Homo sapiens: one gene and its partners. The protein of the gene in region 1 purifies or fractionates together with the protein of each later gene. This does not show direct contact. Each region holds a gene or a part of one and is shown in the gene's direction. Other genes may lie near its edges.

Region 1 (3,736 bases):
GTGGCTCACGCCTGTAATCCTAGCACTTTGGGAGGCCAAGGTGAGTGGATCATCTAAGGTCAGGAGTTCAAGACCAGCCTGGCCAACATGGTGAAACCCGTCTCTACTAAAATACAAAAATTAGCCGGGCATGATGGCAGATGCCTGTAATCTCAGCTACTGGGGAGGCTGAGATGGGAGAATCACTTGAACCCGGGAGACAGTGATTGCAGTGAGCTGAGATCGCGCCACTGCACTCCAGCCTGGGCGGCTGAGGTGAGACTCCATCTCAAAAAACAAAATAACTAAATGTTAAAGTAGGTGATTTTGACTCAGTGTGAGTTGAATGGATGTAATATGGCCTCTCTTTATATTTTGCTACTTCTAGTACTTGAAATTTTAGAACAAGAGCCTTTCTCTATAGATCATCTATTACTAATTCATAATTCAGCATGATATTTATAATAGAAATGGTTTAAAAAGATGCCTATATCTTTAGTTCTTATTCAAATAATATTAGAGAATTTCTGTCCTCTTTTTTTTTTTCTTCTGCTTTTTAATGATTTCACTTACTAGCATCACCTCCAAAGAGAGATAACACTTATTTCACTTATTTGGTCCTTGTTGCTTTTTTTTTTTTGAGACGGAATCTCACTCGGTCGCCAGGCTGGAGTGCAGTGGCGCAGTCTCGGCTCACTGCACTCTCCGCCTCCCAGTTTCAAGCGATTCCCCTACCTCAGCCTCCCAAGTAGCTGGGATTACAGGCGCCTGCCACCACGCCCGGCTAATTTTTTGCAGTTTTAGTAGAGACGGGGTTTCACCCTGTTGGCCAGGATGGTCTCAATCGCTTGACCTTGTGATCCACCTTCCTCGGGCTCCCAAAGTGCTGAGATTACAGATCTGAGCCACTGTGCCCTGACGTTCCTTTTTTTATTAACACTAATAAGCAGCTCCAGTTAAGACAGACAGAAATAAGTACCTGATGCATAAGCACAGCATATCTTTATAAAGCTCTCTTTATACCTCCCCTCCCACATTTGTATCTATAATTAGAAATTTGATCAACACTGTTAACTGTTAACCTCTGATAGAGCAAAGTTGAGGCCTAATTACAACATAAGTCTGAAGAATGCTAATTGTTTTCCATGACCATAATCACCCAGTATCTCATGTAAGTTTATGTATCAGGTACCAGGAATCAGCTGGTACCATGTCAAAAAACATTGTGTTGGAACCAGTGTTTCTCCTTTGTGTTGTTCTTAATGATGGACTGTTTCAGATGTATCAAAAAAAAATGAGGAATAATATGGCAAGTACCCATTTCTCCCCATCCCCTTAAGAAATTAAACATTAGGGCTAGGCGCGGTGGCTCACGCCTGTAATCCCAACAGTTTGGGAGGCCGAGGCAAGTGGATCATGAGGGCAGGAGTTCGAAACCAGCTTGGCCAATATGGTGAAACCCCGTCTCTACTAAAACTGCAAAAAATTAGCCAGGCATGGTGGTGGGCACCTGTAGTCCTAGCTACTCATGAGGCTGAGTCAGGAGAATCGCTTGAACCCAGGAGGCAGAGGTTGCAGTGAGCCGAGATCATGCCATTTGCACTCTAGCCTGGGCGACAGAGTGAGACTCCATCTCAAAAAAATAAATAATAAAATAAAACATTAAAGACACAATTGAAGCCCCCATGTTCTCCCCAGTTCCTCATTGCAGACCCCATGAAGTAAGTACTAACTTAGCTTTCTCTTAAAACCTTTGTTCTTATAAACTCCATAGAAGTAGTATATGTTTCCTGAAACTTGCTGTGTGCTTCCATTTGTCTAAATCAATGTCGTACTTTGCTATATTCTGTCACACTGGTCCCTTCTCAGGCAGGCCTCTCTGTGTTGCTCTCCAGGTGGTGGTGCCTCCCAAAGAGCTCGTTTTAGCTGGCAAGGATGCAGCAGCAGAGTACGATGAGTTGGCAGAACCTCAAGACTTTCAGGACGATCCTGAGTGAGTGATCTTTTTGTGATCCCCATACAACAAATGGCTGATAATAGAATGCCCACTTATATCCAGTTTTCTTGTCTGGATTTTTTAAAATAACTTTTTTCTTCCTGTTTCTAAAAATAATTATTGTAGAAAATTGGGGAAATATATGTAAGACCATGAAGAAGAAAATAAAATTATCCCACCACCAGAGATAAACACCATTAGCATTTTGGCATTTGTCCTTCCAAATATTTCTCACCTCATTGGGATCATTCTATAAATACAGTTTTTTAGCCTTTTTCACTTGAATATATTTTCCCATGTTAATAAAGAAATTTTTAATTATATGATTTTAATGGTTGTGGACAGGATACAATACTCTGTCCCTAGAGATTGATCATCGGGTTTGTTCCCCACCCCCACCCCCTTGGAGGAATTAATAGATTTTACTCTCTCATATCTAATAACTGAAAAGAACCAAACCTTCCAGTAACTGGGGACTGTGACCATCAGAGAATTCAGTCTGTAGACTGAATGTTTTCAATGATTCGAACAGAGGATTTAATATAAATAATTGTTCACTTGTGTAACTTAAAAAGTGAAAAAGAACACTGAAGTAGCAATTTTATGCTACTTCATGGGCATAAAATTTCAAAGATAGCTATTTGATGAGCCAGCTACCACCCCTTAGGTGGAGGGAACAAAGGGAAATAGTTAGAATTATTAAAATTTAGAACTTAAACAAAGAGCTCCATGTAGCTGAAACTCAGGCCTCCAGTGAGCTGAAGGGGAACACTGCTTGCGTGGTCCTGGCATCTCGTGATGGCAAAGGAGGGGTGGCATGATTATACAAGAATTGGAAAACTTCAACTGCTTACTGCCACTTCCTCCTGGGTAAAGAAGCATTGCTGGGCCGGGCATGGTGGCTTACCCCTGTATTCTCAACACTTTGGGAGGCTGAGGCAGGAGGATTGCTTCACAGGAGTTTGAAACCAGCCTAGGAATAGAGTTAAGACTCCGTCTCTACAAAAAAATTTTAAAAATAGCCAGGTGTAGCAGCGCATGCTTGTAGTCCCAGCTACTCAGGATACCAGGGTGGGAGAATCAGTTGAGCCCGGTAGGCTGAGGCTGCAGTCAGCTGTGATTGTGACTGTACTCCAGCCTGGGCAACAGAGTGATACCCTGTCTCAAAAAAAAAAAGACATTTTTGGAGTGATGGCCACAGGGAACAGGGACCACAAGCAAACAGGAATCTCTAAAGGAAGAGCAAGACCCTTCCTCCTCCAGACTTCTAGTCTCCCTTTAGAGCCCGCTGCTGACAGAACCTGACAAAGAGCCATCCGATCCAGCAGATACAGTCCAAGCAGAATCCTGTGTCACAAAGCAAAATTGAGAGAGGTGCGCTTGGAGCTGAAAAATAATAGCTTAGTAAACTGGCACAGGGAACATTCACAGTCTTTGTTTTGTTTTTAGAGAAGGAGTCTCTGTCGCCCAGGCTGGAGTGCAATGGCGTGATCTCCTGCTCACTGCAACCTCCACCTCCCGAGTTCAAGCAGTTCTCCTGCCTCAGCCTCCTGAGGAGCTTGTATTACAGGCAAGCGCCACCACGCCTGGCCAATTTTTGTATTTTTAGTAGAGATGGGGTTTTGCCATGTTGCCCAGGCTGGTCTTGAACTCCTGACCTAAAGTGATCCACCCGACTTGGTCTCCCAAAGTGCTGGGATTACAGGCGTGAGCCACCATGCCTGGCCCATTTACGGTTTTTTGACAGAATGATCAAAAGCT
Region 2 (3,736 bases), on another chromosome or scaffold:
TGTGGAGAGAAATAGGCAAGACTTGTATCTATAAGAAGTAATGTCCATTGTTTCAGTTTTATCTTACAGGTGATGTGAATAGGGAATAATGGGATCAGATGGATCTTCTATAGGTGTGACAAGTGTTTTGGAGGGAAACATGGTGGATTCACGGCTAGGATGCTATGAAGACAGTCCAGGTGGGAGAGTACGTGGCTTTGGGATAGTAGTAGCAGTGGCATGGAGATAAGTGGACAACTTGAGAATAATTGAGAAGTGGTATCAATAGGATCTGGTGATTGATTGGATTTGAGAACTGAACTGAGGAAGAAGGGGGAAGGTGTTAAGATGATTTCCAAGGTTCTGGCTTAAGAGTTCAGTGTGTAATTTCAATGTGTGTAATTTCTTGAGATAAGGAACTCTGGGAACAAGGCAGATTTGGGTAGAGTGTGGCAGCATGTGAAGGTAAGTTAATTTTGGTCATGCCGAGATACAAGTGTCTGCAAAGCTTCTGAGAGCCAAAAGCAGTGTCTCAGAGGCACACTACTCAGTCTTACAGGAGAAGAGAGCACTTGTCAGGTGATCAGATGGGCTTCGCAGGTACTAGACAAAATTCTTGAGTCTAATAGTCAGATCTTAGGCAGGGCCAGCAGTAGAGAAGGAACTAGTGTTACTCCCGTGGGCTCTGCAATTCCAAATGTTACCATCTGGGTTACCAAGGGGATCTTACACCTTCTACCTTCCTAGATTGTTGGTGTCTGCAGAGAGGCTCAGTCTTCAACAGTGCTGTCCAGTAGAATGTGCTGCAGTGATGGGAAATGGTCTTAGAGATTTTCATGGAGTTTTAAGCTGTAAAAACTATGAGCCCTATTAATAGCACATTTTATAGAGGCTTCATGAAGTGTTGGGCTTGTTAAAGTAAATTTCAACCTGAGCTGAGCAGAATGAATATGTAGACATAAGCCCAAAAACGTAAAAGGTGTATCATTGGCCACGCGAGGTGACTTATGCCTGCCATCTCAGCACTTTGGGAGGCTGAGGTGGGTGGATCACTTGAGTCTAGGAATTCAAGACCAGCCTGGACAACATGGTGAAACCCTTTCGCTACAAAAAGTACAAAAATTAGCTGTGGGGATGATGGCGCATGCCTGTAGTTCCAGCTACTTGGGAGACTGAGGTGGGATGATCACCTGAGCCTGGGAGGTCGAGGCTGCGGTAAATCAAAATTGCACCACTTCACTCCAGCAGTGTCAAAAAAAGATTTTTTTCTAAAACATAGGAAAAGAAAATATTTCATAAGTAAGATTTGAGTAAAAAGATAAATAACTTGCAGTTAGTTCTGAAAGAAAATACAGGCAAATAGAAATTACCTATTTTTTTTTTTTTTGAGAGTCTCACTCTGTCACCCAAGCTGGAGTGCAGTGATGCAATCTCAGCTCACTGCAACCTCTACCTCCCGAGTTCAAGTGATTCTCCTGCCTTAGCCTCCTGAATAGCTGGGATTACAAGTGCGTGCCACCACGCCTGGCTAATTTTTGTATTTTTAGTAGAGACGGGGTTTCACCATGTTGGCCAGGCTTGTCTTGAACTCCTGACCTCAGGTGATCCACCCACCTCGGCCTCCCAAAGTGCTGGGATTACAGGTGTGAGCCACCACGGCCGGCCTAGAAATTACCTAAGTATTTCTAAATTACCTAAATAATCCAATGTTAAAAATAATCTGAGATTGCATTTGAGTCTAGTCTCTTAGCTAACAGAATAAATCTAGACTGGGGGATTCCCTGTATTATGTCATGTGACAAGGAGCCTGAGGGTGGAGCAGTTCTGGGGTTAGGTAGTGACTCAGTTGCTCAATGATGACATCAAGGACCTACCTAAATATTTTCCACTTTTTTCTTGCTGTCATGCTTAGTACACTGGTGATAGCTCCCTCTTATGATCACAAAAGAGCTGCACAATGTCAGGTTTTACATGCTAATACAAAGAAGGGTATTCTAGAAAAAAACACCTTTCCTAGAAGTATCTTAGCAGGCTTCTTATCAGGTGCTGGCGGCTGGAGTTTGGTCATCCAGCCATGCCTTAGCTGCAAGAGAGTGAGACAGCAAGTGTCTGGCATTTTCAGCATCAAAAACGAGGGGAAGTGGTGTTGGGGAAAGAGTGTCTGCAGGTGGGGGTGTGTGCTATTGACTTGGGAAGTAATCAAACCTATTAAGTTCAGCACTTTTTGGAGTTCTGTTGCTGGTTCTTTGAGGTAAGCATTGTTTGAAGGTTCTTATTTAGATTGAACGTGGAGGAGATGTGATAGTGGACTATGTAGTATCGTTATTAATACCTGTTTATCTTTTTCTCTCTTTTTTTTTCTTTGAGATGGAGTCTCACTCTGTTTCCAGGCTAGAGTGCAGTGGCGCAACCTTGGCTCGCTTCAACCTTTGCCTCCCGGGTTCAAGCGATTCTCCTGCCTCAGCCTCCCCGGTAGCTGGGACTACAGGCACCCGCCACCATGCCCAGCTAACTTTTGTATTTTTAGTAGAGATGGGGTTTCACCATTTTGGCCAGGATGGTCTCCATCTCTTGATCTTGTGATCCGCCCACCTCAGCCTTCCAAAGTGCTGGGATTACAGGTGTGAGCCACCACGCCCGGCCTGTTTATCTTTTTCTAAGTAGTATCACCATTTAGTAGACAGGAGACATTTGCCAAATTAACCAGTGTTGGATATATTTGTTTTTATTTGTGAGTGAAAATACTAAAACAGATCTAGGATTGATAGTGATAATAGAAGTGCCATGTGTTTATATAGGTTACCGGGCATTTTTATGTGTGTTATGAAGTTTGAATCCTACCAACCACCTTGTAAGTAGAGGAGACAGCTTTTATTAACACTGTTTTACAAATGAGAAAACTGAGACCAACAGAGTGAATGACTAGTCTAAGGTCCAGAGTCAGGACCAGAAACAAAGTCTTTTTTGTTCATTCTCTTTATTTACACTCTCATTGAGGATCTTATTTGGCTCCTTCTGATAGGAGAAGCTTTAGATAACCTTAATTATTTTTATTTTTATTTTATTTTTTTTTTTGAGATGAAGTTTCACTCTTGTTGCCCAGGTTGGAGTGCAATGGTGTGATCTCGGCTCACCGTAACCTCCGCCCCCTGGGTTCAAGAAGTTCTCCTGCCTCAGCCTCCCAAGTAGCTGGGATCACAGGCATGTGCCACCACACCCAGCTAATTTTGTAGTTTTAGTAGAGATGGGGTTTCTCCATGTTGGTCAGGCTGGTCTCGAACTGTCGACCTCAGGTGATCTGCCTGCTTCGGCCTCCCAAAGTGTTGGGATTACAGGCGTGAGCCACCGTGCCCAGCCACCTTAATTAATTACAATATATAGCTTGCCTCAGGTAAGAAAAAAAAAATCTCACTTTTTCAACATTTCATAAGCAGCATGGACTGTACTAAGAGCTGAAGGAGCTTACAGCGCCTAGGATATGGATGAGGATGGTCACCTGCTAGAGATGGCAGCACATACCTGCCTGGTAGGGTGAGAAGTTTCAGCTGATGATGTTTGAGCATGAATCTTGAAAGACAGAGGGTGTTCTGCAAGCAGAGAGGAGGCAGGAGCAAAGACAAGGGCGTGGGGTCGAGGCGGTGGGTGGGGAGGCTAATGCAGGAGAGAGACAGGGGAGGGGCAGGCCAACAGGCCAGGCAGATTTTGGAGAGTGGTGCTTGCCAAGTCTGATCTCTATCCTGGCAGCATTTGGACTTTT
Region 3 (2,403 bases), on another chromosome or scaffold:
AGGCCTTCAGCTGCCACTCGTCCCTCATCGTGCACCAGCGCATCCACACCGGTGAGAAGCCCTACAAGTGCAGCGAGTGCGGCAGAGCCTTCAGCCAGAACCACTGTCTCATTAAACATCAGAAAATCCACTCCGGGGAGAAGTCGTTTAAGTGTGAGAAATGTGGGGAGATGTTCAACTGGAGCTCGCACCTCACTGAGCACCAGAGGCTGCACAGCGAGGGGAAGCCCTTGGCCATCCAGTTCAACAAACACCTGCTCAGCACATACTACGTGCCTGGCAGCCTGCTGGGTGCAGGGGATGCTGGACTGAGGGACGTGGATCCCATCGACGCGCTGGATGTGGCAAAGCTCTTGTGCGTGGTTCCCCCCAGAGCTGGCAGGAATTTCTCCCTGGGGAGCAAACCTCGAAACTAACATGATGTGCTTTGGTGTCAGTAGCTGCTTTCTGAGCTACTCAACAAGGAAAGCACCCTGGTCCTCCCTGGCTCCTAGATCCAGACCACCTTCCTCCAGGTGTGGGAGCCTTGCCTTATCACCCCCATCAGGTCTGCATGCCAGGGTGCCTCCTCTAGTTAAAGTCAGTCACCTCCCCAGAAGGGCCACACTCCAGGAGGAGTGTTGAGAGTCATTTGAGGTAGTCTTGCCACCTGTTTTCCTTGATGGGCCTGGAAGTTGTTGACAAGGGGAAAGATCTTTCTTGCCAATAAAAAGAAGGGATATCGTTGGGTGCCATGGCTCACACCTGTAATCTTAACACTGTGGGAGGCCAAGGCAAGGGGATCACTTGAGCCCAGGAGTCTAGGACCAGCCTGGACAACATGGTGAGACCTCGTCTCTACAAAAAATGCAAAAATTAGCCAGATGTGGCGGCATGTCCCTGTGGTCCCAGCTACTCAGGAGGCTGAGGTGGGAGGATCATTTGAGCCTAGGAGGTCAAGGCTGCAGTGAGCCATGATTCACAGCACTGCACTGCAGCCTGGGTGACAAAGCAAGACCCTGTGTGAAATTAAAAGGAGGTATATCAACTGTTGTATCCTCGGACGGGCTCCTGACACGGCTTTAATCAGGAGTTTCCTCCATAAACTATTATTTTCAGAATAATAATAAAACAAGAATTATGACTAGCATCACTTTCCAGTGAACATTATTATATTGCTAGAGAGGAGAATAATCTTGGGTGGTGGGCATTTGGAAAAAGTGAATTTCCTGGACTTAACTCATGTAAATAGCTCTACTGCAGAGCTGTGTGTTTAGTGACAGTGCAGTCAGGGGCATTCCCACAGCTGTCACAGCACGGCCCAGCATCATTGTAGCCAGATCCTAACATGCCAACATCACCTCTTGCCATTTAGCCCCTAGTGAGAAATTGGGAGCTACCAGGCAGGTGCCCAGTGCATTCAGGGAAGATGGGCACAACATCAGGATGGGTGTGTCTGGAAGCTCCTCTTCACTGACCAGGGCTGGGCAGGGCCACCCTGGGCTGGTGAGGCTGCCCTGCAGGGCTTCTCACTATGTAGCACCAGTCACCAGCCCAGGTCACAGAAGAAGCCCCTCCCAGCACCCACTGGAGAGGGGAAGCTGAAGCCCAGGGAGACGGGCTCCATGGTGGTCCCACATGGAGCTGTTTTGCAAACCCTGGAAAAGGCGGCTCTCCCTGTCCCAACACTCTTCAGAGACAGGAAGACAGAGTTAATCTTGAATGAATGTTATTTCTACTTAGTCCTAAGCAAGAATAAGCTGCCCTCTTGGTGATCATACTTTATACGGAGTGCTATCGTTTATGAAATGCTTTCAGTATGCTTTTTAAATTATGCAGGCAAAATAACCACACTTCAGAAAATGTGGACTTCTGAAAAATAAAATCCCCATAATTCTTAATAAAACTGCCTTTTGCACTTTGATACATTACCCTCTGCTTTGTTCATGTAGAACTTTGCATTATTTTCAACACAGTGTATCTATAGTTTTTATCTTTTTTCCCTCTTTAGCTTTGTAGCAGATTTTTTTTTCAAGCATCTAAACTGTCCTCGTTATACTTCTTTTTTTTTTAAATTATACTGTAAGTTCTAGGGTACGTATGCACAACGTGCAGGTTAGTTACATATGTATACATGTGTCATGTTGGTGTGCTGCACCCAGTAACTCGTCATTTAACATTAGGTATATCTCCAAATGCTATCCCTCCCGCCTCCCCCCACCCCACAACAGGCCCTGGTGTGTGATGTTCCCCTTCCTGTGTCCATTGTTCAATTCCAACCTATGAGTGAGAACATGCGATATTTGGTTTTTTGTCCTTGCGATAGTGTGCTGAGAATGATGGTTTCCAGCTTCATCCATGTCCTTGTTATACTTCTAAACAGAGGCACAGTGTTCTCTCTGGTCTCTTAGATACTCTTTTGTT

What was found.
Region 2: the proteins of DCTN4 (region 1) and SEH1L fractionate together in Homo sapiens (co-fractionation; one large-scale study listed by BioGRID). This does not show direct contact.
Region 3: the proteins of DCTN4 (region 1) and ZNF74 purify together in Homo sapiens (co-immunoprecipitation; one large-scale study listed by IntAct). This does not show direct contact.

The regions. Positions count from the first base shown.
Region 1 is NC_000005.10:150,713,801-150,717,536, reverse strand, and holds part of DCTN4 (dynactin subunit 4), read left to right. Parts: intron 1-1,874; coding exon 1,875-1,972; intron 1,973-3,736. UniProt on the Homo sapiens protein: Part of the dynactin complex that activates the molecular motor dynein for ultra-processive transport along microtubules.
Region 2 is NC_000018.10:12,971,956-12,975,691, forward strand, and holds part of SEH1L (nucleoporin SEH1), read left to right. Parts: intron 1-3,736. UniProt on the Homo sapiens protein: Component of the Nup107-160 subcomplex of the nuclear pore complex (NPC). The Nup107-160 subcomplex is required for the assembly of a functional NPC.
Region 3 is NC_000022.11:20,406,553-20,408,955, forward strand, and holds the end of ZNF74 (zinc finger protein 74), read left to right. Parts: coding exon 1-416; 3' UTR 417-1,903; downstream 1,904-2,403. UniProt on the Homo sapiens protein: May play a role in RNA metabolism.